Linked DNA regions of Homo sapiens: regions 1 and 2 are each linked to region 3. Evidence: fine-mapped expression QTL. A gene starts in region 3. Each other region holds a variant in brackets. All regions are shown on one strand. Distances are from middle to middle. Region 1 overlaps MAP3K15 (mitogen-activated protein kinase kinase kinase 15). Region 2 has its middle 100 kb from the start of ADGRG2. Region 3 holds the start of PDHA1 (pyruvate dehydrogenase E1 subunit alpha 1).

The links. PIP is the estimated chance that this variant, and not a neighbour inherited with it, causes the effect.
Region 1: its variant is the best candidate, but not a certain one, in a credible set for the expression of PDHA1 in blood mononuclear cells (TOPMed, PIP 0.77).
Region 2: its variant is the best candidate, but not a certain one, in a credible set for the expression of PDHA1 in lung (TOPMed, PIP 0.50).

What each region holds. Positions count from the first base shown.
Region 1 is chrX:19,368,200-19,370,959 of GRCh38, reverse strand. MAP3K15 (mitogen-activated protein kinase kinase kinase 15) reads left to right here. Exons shown (of 29, transcript NM_001001671.4): 24 at 1; 25 at 1,741-1,906. Among named protein-coding and RNA genes, the nearest start is that of PDHA1, 26 kb to the right of the region's middle. The variant A/TA (reference allele first, on the strand shown) is at 1,208.
Region 2 is chrX:19,221,068-19,223,827 of GRCh38, reverse strand. No RefSeq gene overlaps it. Among named protein-coding and RNA genes, the nearest start is that of ADGRG2, 100 kb to the right of the region's middle. The variant A/G (reference allele first, on the strand shown) is at 1,118.
Region 3 is chrX:19,342,707-19,345,466 of GRCh38, reverse strand. It overlaps PDHA1 (pyruvate dehydrogenase E1 subunit alpha 1), which reads right to left and starts at 1,540. Exons shown (of 11, transcript NM_000284.4): 1 at 1,373-1,540. The coding sequence starts at 1,429.

The sequences.
Region 1 (2,760 bases), 25 kb before region 3:
GGTGAGCGCCCCCTTTGTGGTCAAGGTCAGCTTTAGGCCGTGAAAAGATAAGAAATATCCTCTTCATTCAACAGTTGTTGCTTTTCTCTTTTCCATCTTGGTTATCTACTTCCTTGGAATTAAATGCATGTTGTCATAGACTTCTTCCGGGGCTGATTCTGTAGTTCTGAGAGCATCTCGTGGTGCTGTATTTACGTGTCCCTGAAGCATGATGAAGGTGACTACACATAAACTATAACTCACAATCTCAAAAGGGAGCATGGGGCCGGACGCGGTGGCTCATGCCTGTAATCCCAGCACTTTGGGAGGACGAGGTGGGCAGATCAGCTGAGGTCAGGAGTTCAAGACCAGGCTGGCCAACATAGTGAAACCCCGTCTCTACTAAAAATACAAAAAATTAGCCAGGCTTGGTGGCACGTGCCTGTAATCCCAGCTACTCGGGAGGCTGAGGCAGGAAAATCGCTTGAACCCGGGTGGTGGAGGTTGCAGTGAGCCGAGATCACGCCACTGCACTCCAGCCTGGGCAACAGAGTGAGATTCCGTCTCAATAAAAATAAACAAATACATAAATAATATTAAATTAAAAGGGAGCATGGGGCCAGAGGGGAAGGATCCTCCAGTCCTCTGGTATCCCCTTCATCGTGCACTCAGGAATGTTTCTTGGGTAACTGACAATACAGTGGCTCAGATTCCTCTCTCTGAATCATCATGTAGTAGTTACAGAAGTTTTTGGTTTTTGTCAATTTCCTTTTTGAAATGTTACCAAAGTTGATTCTCCTTCTCTGGTGACTTCTTCCTGCTAAGGGAGGCTTTACAGCCCATTCTGTCGCCATCATGGTTTCCCCCTTTCCTTCAGCTCCTTGCTGTTTGGCTCCAGCCCACCCTCCCGAATGCACTGTGTAGCCCAGGCTCAGCTGCAGGAGAGGCTTGGGAAACCCCAGTGCTTAATTCCTCTCCCACTCCAAGCAGACACCTTCTGTAGTAAAACGGCACAGGCTTGGGTGGCAGCCTGGCTCTACTTATTTCTTTCTTTTCTTTTTTTTTTTTTCTGAGACAGAGTCTTGCTCTGTCACCCAGGCTGGAGTGCAATGATGCGATCTCGCCTCACTGCAACCTCCATCTCCCAGGTTCAAGCAATTCTCCTGCCTCAGCCTCCGGAGTAGCTGGGGCTACAGGTGCGCGCCACCACACCCAGCTAATTTTTTTT[A/TA]GTAGAGACGGGGTTTCACCATGTTGGCCAGGATGGTCTTGATCTCTTGACCTTGTGATCTGCCCGCCTCAGCCTCCCAAAGTGATGGGATTACAGGCGTGAGCCACTGCGCCTGGACCTGGCTAATTTTTGTATATATTTTTTAGTAGAGATGGGGTTTCACCATGTTGGCCGGGCTGGTTTCAAACTCCTGACCTCAAGTGATCTGCCTGCCTCAGCCTCCCAAAGTGCTTGGATTACAGGTGTAAGCCATTGCTCCTGGCCTGGTTGTACCTTTTGAACGCTGGCCTTGGTTCACTTCATATCCTTAAGCCTCAATTTCTTCCTGTGGAAACTGGCGTGATCAACTTTACGCTGCAGAGAACCAAATGGAACAGTCTCTTCTCCATTTGTAAAGTCAGCAGTCCCCTAATGGAGCATGGCACGGGCTGGGCCAGCTTCTGAACAGCCCGGTTTGCTGACCTGGGTGTCTGCGACCCCAGGCCCCACTGGCCTGGTTTGCTCACCATTGTCATGTCTTGTGTGATTTGCAGAGCTCCGAGCCCACTTTGAGCCTACCTGTGAGACTGAAGGGGTAGATAAGGACATGGATGAAGCGGAAGAGGGCTATCCCCCAGCCACCGGACCTGGCCAGGAGGCCCAGCCCCACCAGCAGCACCTGAGCCTCCAGCTGGGTGAGCTCAGACAGGAGACCAACAGGTGAGGAGCTTCTGGGCCCTCCTCTGGGAGCAGGCGCTGGGACAGTGGCCTGAGCCACCAAGATGCTGATTAATTGGCTTTATTGTTGACCATCTCACCCAGGTCTTAGGAAAAAGCAGCTTCATCATCCACGAACTAGGCAAGGGCGCATATTCTCAGCCTCAATTGAGGGACTAGAGGAATGCCTTCCTTTAAAAAAAAAAAAAAAAAAACTCAGAATCAGAGAGGTATATATAGTACCTTGCCCCAGACCACACAGAAATTACTCATACTAAAGGCAGCAGCATCTGTGAATTCTTTCTCTCTTTTCACCAAGACGGGGCCCCTGGCATGGTGTGTGGGTCTCGCAGGCTCAGCAGCCTGCCCCTGCAGAAGTAGCAGGGTTTGGGGGTTGGTTAGCACTTCATCAGTGGATGTACATCCCATAATCCCGACCCCGAGGAAGTTTGTCCTGTTGTCATTTCTTCCATGTGATTTGTCATGATCCCTAGACGGGCATTAGTGGACTAGCTTCCCAACCAGGGAACCCTGGCATCACCATCATATTCCTCCAATGCACTGGTCTGTTTTGTTCACTTCCTGGCACATAGTAGGTGCTTAATATTTGTGAAGTGGATGGGCGTGGTGGCTCACGCCTGTAATCCCAACACTTTGAGAGGCCGAGGTGAGTGGATCACTTAAGGTCAAGAGTTTGAGACAGCCTGGCCAACATGGTGAAACCCCATCTCTTCTAAAACTACAAAATTAGCCAGGTATGGTGGCGCACGCCTGTAATCTTAGCTGCTTGGGAAGCTGAGGCAGGAGAATCGATTGAATCCGGGAGGTGGGGGTTGCAGTGAGCTGAGATCGTGCCA
Region 2 (2,760 bases), 120 kb after region 3:
AGTCCCAGCTACTTGGGAGGCTGAGGCAGGAGAACTGCCTGAACCCAGGAGGTGAAGGTTTCAGTGGGCCGAGATCACGCCACTGCACTCCACCTGGGTGCCAGAGTGAGACTCCATCTCAATAAATGAATGAATAAATAAATAAATGCAATTGCTTTTTGTAGGTTGATTTTTTTTTTGCTACAGCAAAACTACTAAATTCTCTTATTAATTCTAGTTTTTTTTTTTTAGCTTTCTATGCATACCATAATGTCGTCTGTGACCAATACATTTTTGTTTCTTTTTAATCCTTATACCTTTTGTTTCTCTCTCTTTTCTTACTGTACTGGTTAGAATATGCAGTCCTGTGTTGAAAAGAAGTGGCTCAGCCTGGACAATATAGCAAGACCCCATCTCTACACAAAATTTAAAAATTAGCCAAGTGGCGGCACACACCTGCAGTCCCAGCCACTCGGGAGGCTGAGGTGAGAGGATCACTTGAGCCGGAAGGCCAAGGCTGCAGTGAGCTGTGATTGCACCACTGCACTCGAGCCTGGGCCACAGAGTGAGACCCTGTCTCAAAACAAAAAAGAAAAGAAGTGGTTATAGCTGCCACTTTTTGTTGTTCCTGATTTTAAGGGGGGAATACATTTAATGTTTCAATATTAATTATGATATTTGCTGTATAGTTTTGTAGATACTCTATATCCAGCAAAGGAAATTTCCTTCTTAACTTGCTAAGAATTTTTATAATTAATGGATAATGTCCTCAAAAAATGTTTTTCTGCATCTATAGAAATTACCATGTGCCCTTTCTTATTTATTTTGGTACTATGAAGAATTGTATTAATTGATTTTCTAATCAATTAAACCCTAAACTGCTGAGGAAAAGTCATCGTGGTCATTTTTGTCATTTTTGTATATTGCTAGATTTTGTCTAGGATTTTTGCATCTACATATTTCTGAGAAAACTAGGCTTGTAATTTTCCTTTGCCATGTTCTCTCATATCCTCTCTGTCAAGTTTTAGTATCGAGGTTATGCTAACCTCAAAATGAGTTGGCAAGTGTTCCCTCTATTTCTATAATCTAGAATACTTTGTATGTGATTAGAATTGTTAGTTCCTTTATTATTTAGTAG[A/G]ATTCATTTGTAAAATAAGGAGCTAAGTATCCAACTTCAGTAGTGAGAAAAGAACAGGATAACCCGAAGAAGGTAAAAGGAAGAAATTATAAATATAATAACCAAAATAAGGAAATGAAAAACAGAATGTTTTTCTGTTGACAAAGGAATGTTGACAAAGCCAAAATTTAGTTCTTAAAAAATCCAAAATAGGCAAACATATAACAAGATTAATTCAAAGAAAGAAAAGTGACAAGAATGAACCATATTAAGAATGTAACCATAGATCAGTAGTTAAAAATATAAACAACTGATTCAGGGGATCATGGTGGATGGGAGGCAGGACTAGATTGCAGCTCCAGATAGAGCAGCGTGTGGAGGCTTGCACTGTGAATTTTAGCTCCAGATTGACTGCAAGAACGAAGCAGCAGTTCTGTGGGTCCCCGGAGGACCCACAGACCCTTTGAATGAAGTGAACTGCTCCTGCAGGACCCGGGAGACCCCCCAAAACTATGAGTGCCCCAACTGCGGAAGTGGGAAAGGGAGACCCTCCTCTGCCGAACACACCCCCGCACTGGAGAAGCAGAAGGTCTGTTTGTGGGAGAAGTTTCCTACTTTACCTGGGGCTGAGTCAAGTTAGAGAGCGGAGCGAAATACAAGGGTAGAGGAAGCAGCAGAATAGCCCTGGGAGCTCGCTGGGTCCCCAGGCAGCCCATTCCTGCCTGGTACCACAGGAATCCATTGGGAGGGTGGCCAGAGGAGCAGGTGGTTAAACTCCACAGGGAGAAGGAATTCTCCAGCTGAACTTTGTAACAATTTAAATGGGGTGAGAAGCCTCCTGGCCAGAACTTGGGGGAGGACACAAATCCAGAGTGCAGACTTCACAGGTGGGGGAAGAATTAAAGCCCTTTTCTCTCAAAGCTGGGAGGCAGATAGCCTTGGGCAAATTTTCAAGCGGTCTTGTCTCGCCCTCCCATGCTTATGGATGGGTAGAATCAATATTGTGAAAATGACCATACTGCCAAAAGCAATCTACAAATTCAACACAATTTCCATCAGAATACCACCATCATTCTTCACAGAATTACAAAAAGCAATTCTATAATTCATATGGAACCTAAAAAGAGCCCGCATAGCAAAAAGAACAAATCTGGAGGCATCACACTACCCGATTTCAAACTATACTATAAGGCCATTGTCACCAAAACAGCATGGTGCTGGTATAGAAATAGGTACATAGACCAATGGAACAGAATAGAGAACCCAGAAATAAACCCAAGTACTTACAGCCAACTGATCTTTGACAAAGCAAACAAAACATAAAGTGGGGAAAACACAAACAAAACGTGGGGAAAGGACACCCTTTTGGTGCTGGGGCTATTGGCTAGCCACATGTAGGAGAATGAAACTGGATCCTCATCTCTCACCTTGTACAAAAATCAACTCAAGATGGATTAAGGACTTAAACCTAAGACCTGAAACTATAAAAATTCTAGAAGATAACATTGGAAAAACCCTTCTAGACATTGGCTTAGGCAAGGATTTCATGACCAAGAATCCAAAAGCCAATGCAATAAAAACAAAGATAAATATCTGGGGCCTAATTAAACTAAAGAGCCTTTGCATGGCAAAAGGAACAGTCAGCAGAGTAAACAGAAAACCCA
Region 3 (2,760 bases):
TCCCGAGTAGCTGGGATTACAGGAGCCCGCCACCACGACCGGCTAATTTTGTATTTTTAGTAGAGACGGGGTTTCACCATGTTGGCCAGGCTGATCTCGAACTTCTGACCTCAGGTGATCCACCTGCCTCAGCCTCCCAAAATGCTGGGATTACAGGCCTGAGCCACCGCACCCGGCAGTTTTGTCATTATTTTAGGCAACAGGATTCCTAGAGGGGCATACCTCTTACCTTTTGACAATCTCTGCCTGTACTAAGTAGAGCGGTATCAAGTCCTGGGGGAAATACCAGAATCCCGAGGCCTGCAGTTACACCAATTAACACGACCTCACTGTGCCTAGGGGGGTCAGAATGCTAGCTCAGGTGTTAGGCACCTCTAAATGCTGAGGCCATGAAATAGTGCTAAACTCTACCCCCCACCCCTCAAGCATCGTTGCTCTTTGCTTTAGCTACTTGTACCCTAAGAATGTGTAGGTAAGGGGAGGGGAGGGCAGCGTCCTCTGAGTTCTGCTTCGGCGCTCCTGAACTCACTGCCAAGAAAAGCTCAGATGTTGAGGGAGAGGGAAGAGGAGGAAGTTTGTTTCTGAAGAGGCTGACCTTCTGTGAACCCGCCTCAGAACTGAGCACAGGTGTTCAAGAAATGTATACCGAACTGGAGACTCAATAAATAACACTATTCAACACACATGTTATCGATTATGTGCCAGGTGCTATTTGGAATCGTTTCCACACGTGTCACTCGTTGAATCCTCAAGACAACCCCAAGAGGTGGGGACTCTTATTATCTCCATTTTAGAGTTAACTGATAACATTTCAGAGATAACTCTTATCTCCATTTAGAGATTAACTCCACTTCGAGCAAACATTTTAGGAAACCGGGTCCCCGGGACGTTTAAAAACTTGCTCAAGGTCACAGGGCTAGTCAATGGTGAGGGTGCTGTTTGAACGAAGCCACCCTGTCTCCAGATTCTACGCTATTACAAAGCCTCTCGGTCAAGAGAAATTAAGTTAGAAGATCCGAAATGAGTGGGGTCAATTGGAGACTCGAAGGAGGCCGAGGCCACCCTTTCCGTGTCCTGTAACCCAACAGGCACCTCTTGAGCACACCGACTTCGCCTGGCGCACAGCTGGGCCCGGGGGCGGGAGGTGGGTGTCGAGAAGGGGGAAGTTCACACGGACCTTGGCGTGATCCCGGTCCGTGCCGCTTCTCCCGAGGCCAGGAACGGAATGCAGGGCGCGGAGGCGAAGTAAAGGCTCCCCGGCTCCCCTGGCGCCTTCCACCCCGCTCTGGGTGGCCCGGCCTGGCCCGCCCTGCCCTCCGGCCCCGCCTCAGCCCCACTCGCGCCCCATCCCGGCCCGCCCGGGAGGTCTCACCGGCTTCTGAGAAGCGCCAGACAGCACGCGGGAGACGGCGGCGAGCATCTTCCTCATGAAGCACAGGCAGTGGCGGCAGCGGCGACTCCTCACAACCCAGGAGGCACGACGCGGGTGCCCCCAAGTCTCCTTCAGGTGCCCCAGCAGACGCCACGCCTCAGTCGCACCGCGGCGTGACAGAGTCGTAATAACGTCATGCGCTGCGCCGGGCCGCGGGCCAACCAGAACGGCGTCCAGGGGGTGCCCCGCCCCCGCTAAAGGCCTGAGGCTGCCCATTGGGTATCAGCGCCAGAGAGGGAGGGGCTGAGGGCTCTTTCCGACGCCACGCCGCGGGCGGGTGAGGAGGCGGGGCTTGATAGCGCCTGCGTGGGAAGGTGGGGCCCCCGCCTCCAGGGCGCCGCGGGAAAGGAGCCTTCCTAGATTCCGCTCTGCTGACTACCGGGGAGGTTGTGCAGGCCCCGTCCTACCGAGCGCCTACTCCTGCCGGTGCTGCAGCTCTGCAGCCCTCGTTCAGTACATCTCGTTCAGTACACTAGATGATGAAGATTAGCAGCATGCTCAGAGCCAAAAGACAGAACATCTGGTTTCTGTAAATGGTCTGCCACTAACTTTGTCTTTAAAAGATCACGTAGCAGTTGGACAGTTCTGCCCTGTCTACTTGAACGCGGATCAAAAAATTTGTTTCCCAATATATGTCGAGAGGACAATGGGAAAAATCTTTTTTCTCTAGTTATTGGTTCACAGGCTCACTGCGAGTTAACAGCGTGGCTCAGCCGATGATAAAAGCACACACAGAGACAAAACACCAAAGCAACAAGGGGCTCTATTCAGAGGATCAAAGGGCTCAGGAACCCATTGTGTTGTGTCCTAGTGGGATTGCACCTGGGGTTCCGGGTTCAGATTTGGGCTCCACATTTTAAGGGGGATAATGAGTAAACTGAGTGGAATCCAGGGGACAGTGGTCAGAACGGTGAGGGGCTGCGATTGTGACTTATGAAGAACGATTAAAGAAGTTAGGAAGAAAACAGGCTAACTAGAATTGGCTGGGTTATGATGTAACAACTGACCTCCAAATTTCAGTGATTTCAAGAATTTGAAGTGACGCGAGCCATCGTACTCGTAACACAGGTCCCTCACAGCGTGGCACCCTCTCTCTGGAACTTAGCTTGTCTCATGGATGAAGAGAAAAGGGATCATTTAAACCGGCTCTCAAAGCTTCTGCCCAGAAGTGACACATGTCACTTCCTCTCAATTTTCACGGACCAGAGCTAGTTACCCGACCATGTCTGAGTTCCACAAGGTGAAATATAATCCTCCTGCCAGGAGGAGAACAGAAAATTGGATGAACAGTAAAACCAGAGAGGATTGGATATGTCTTCACACATTTT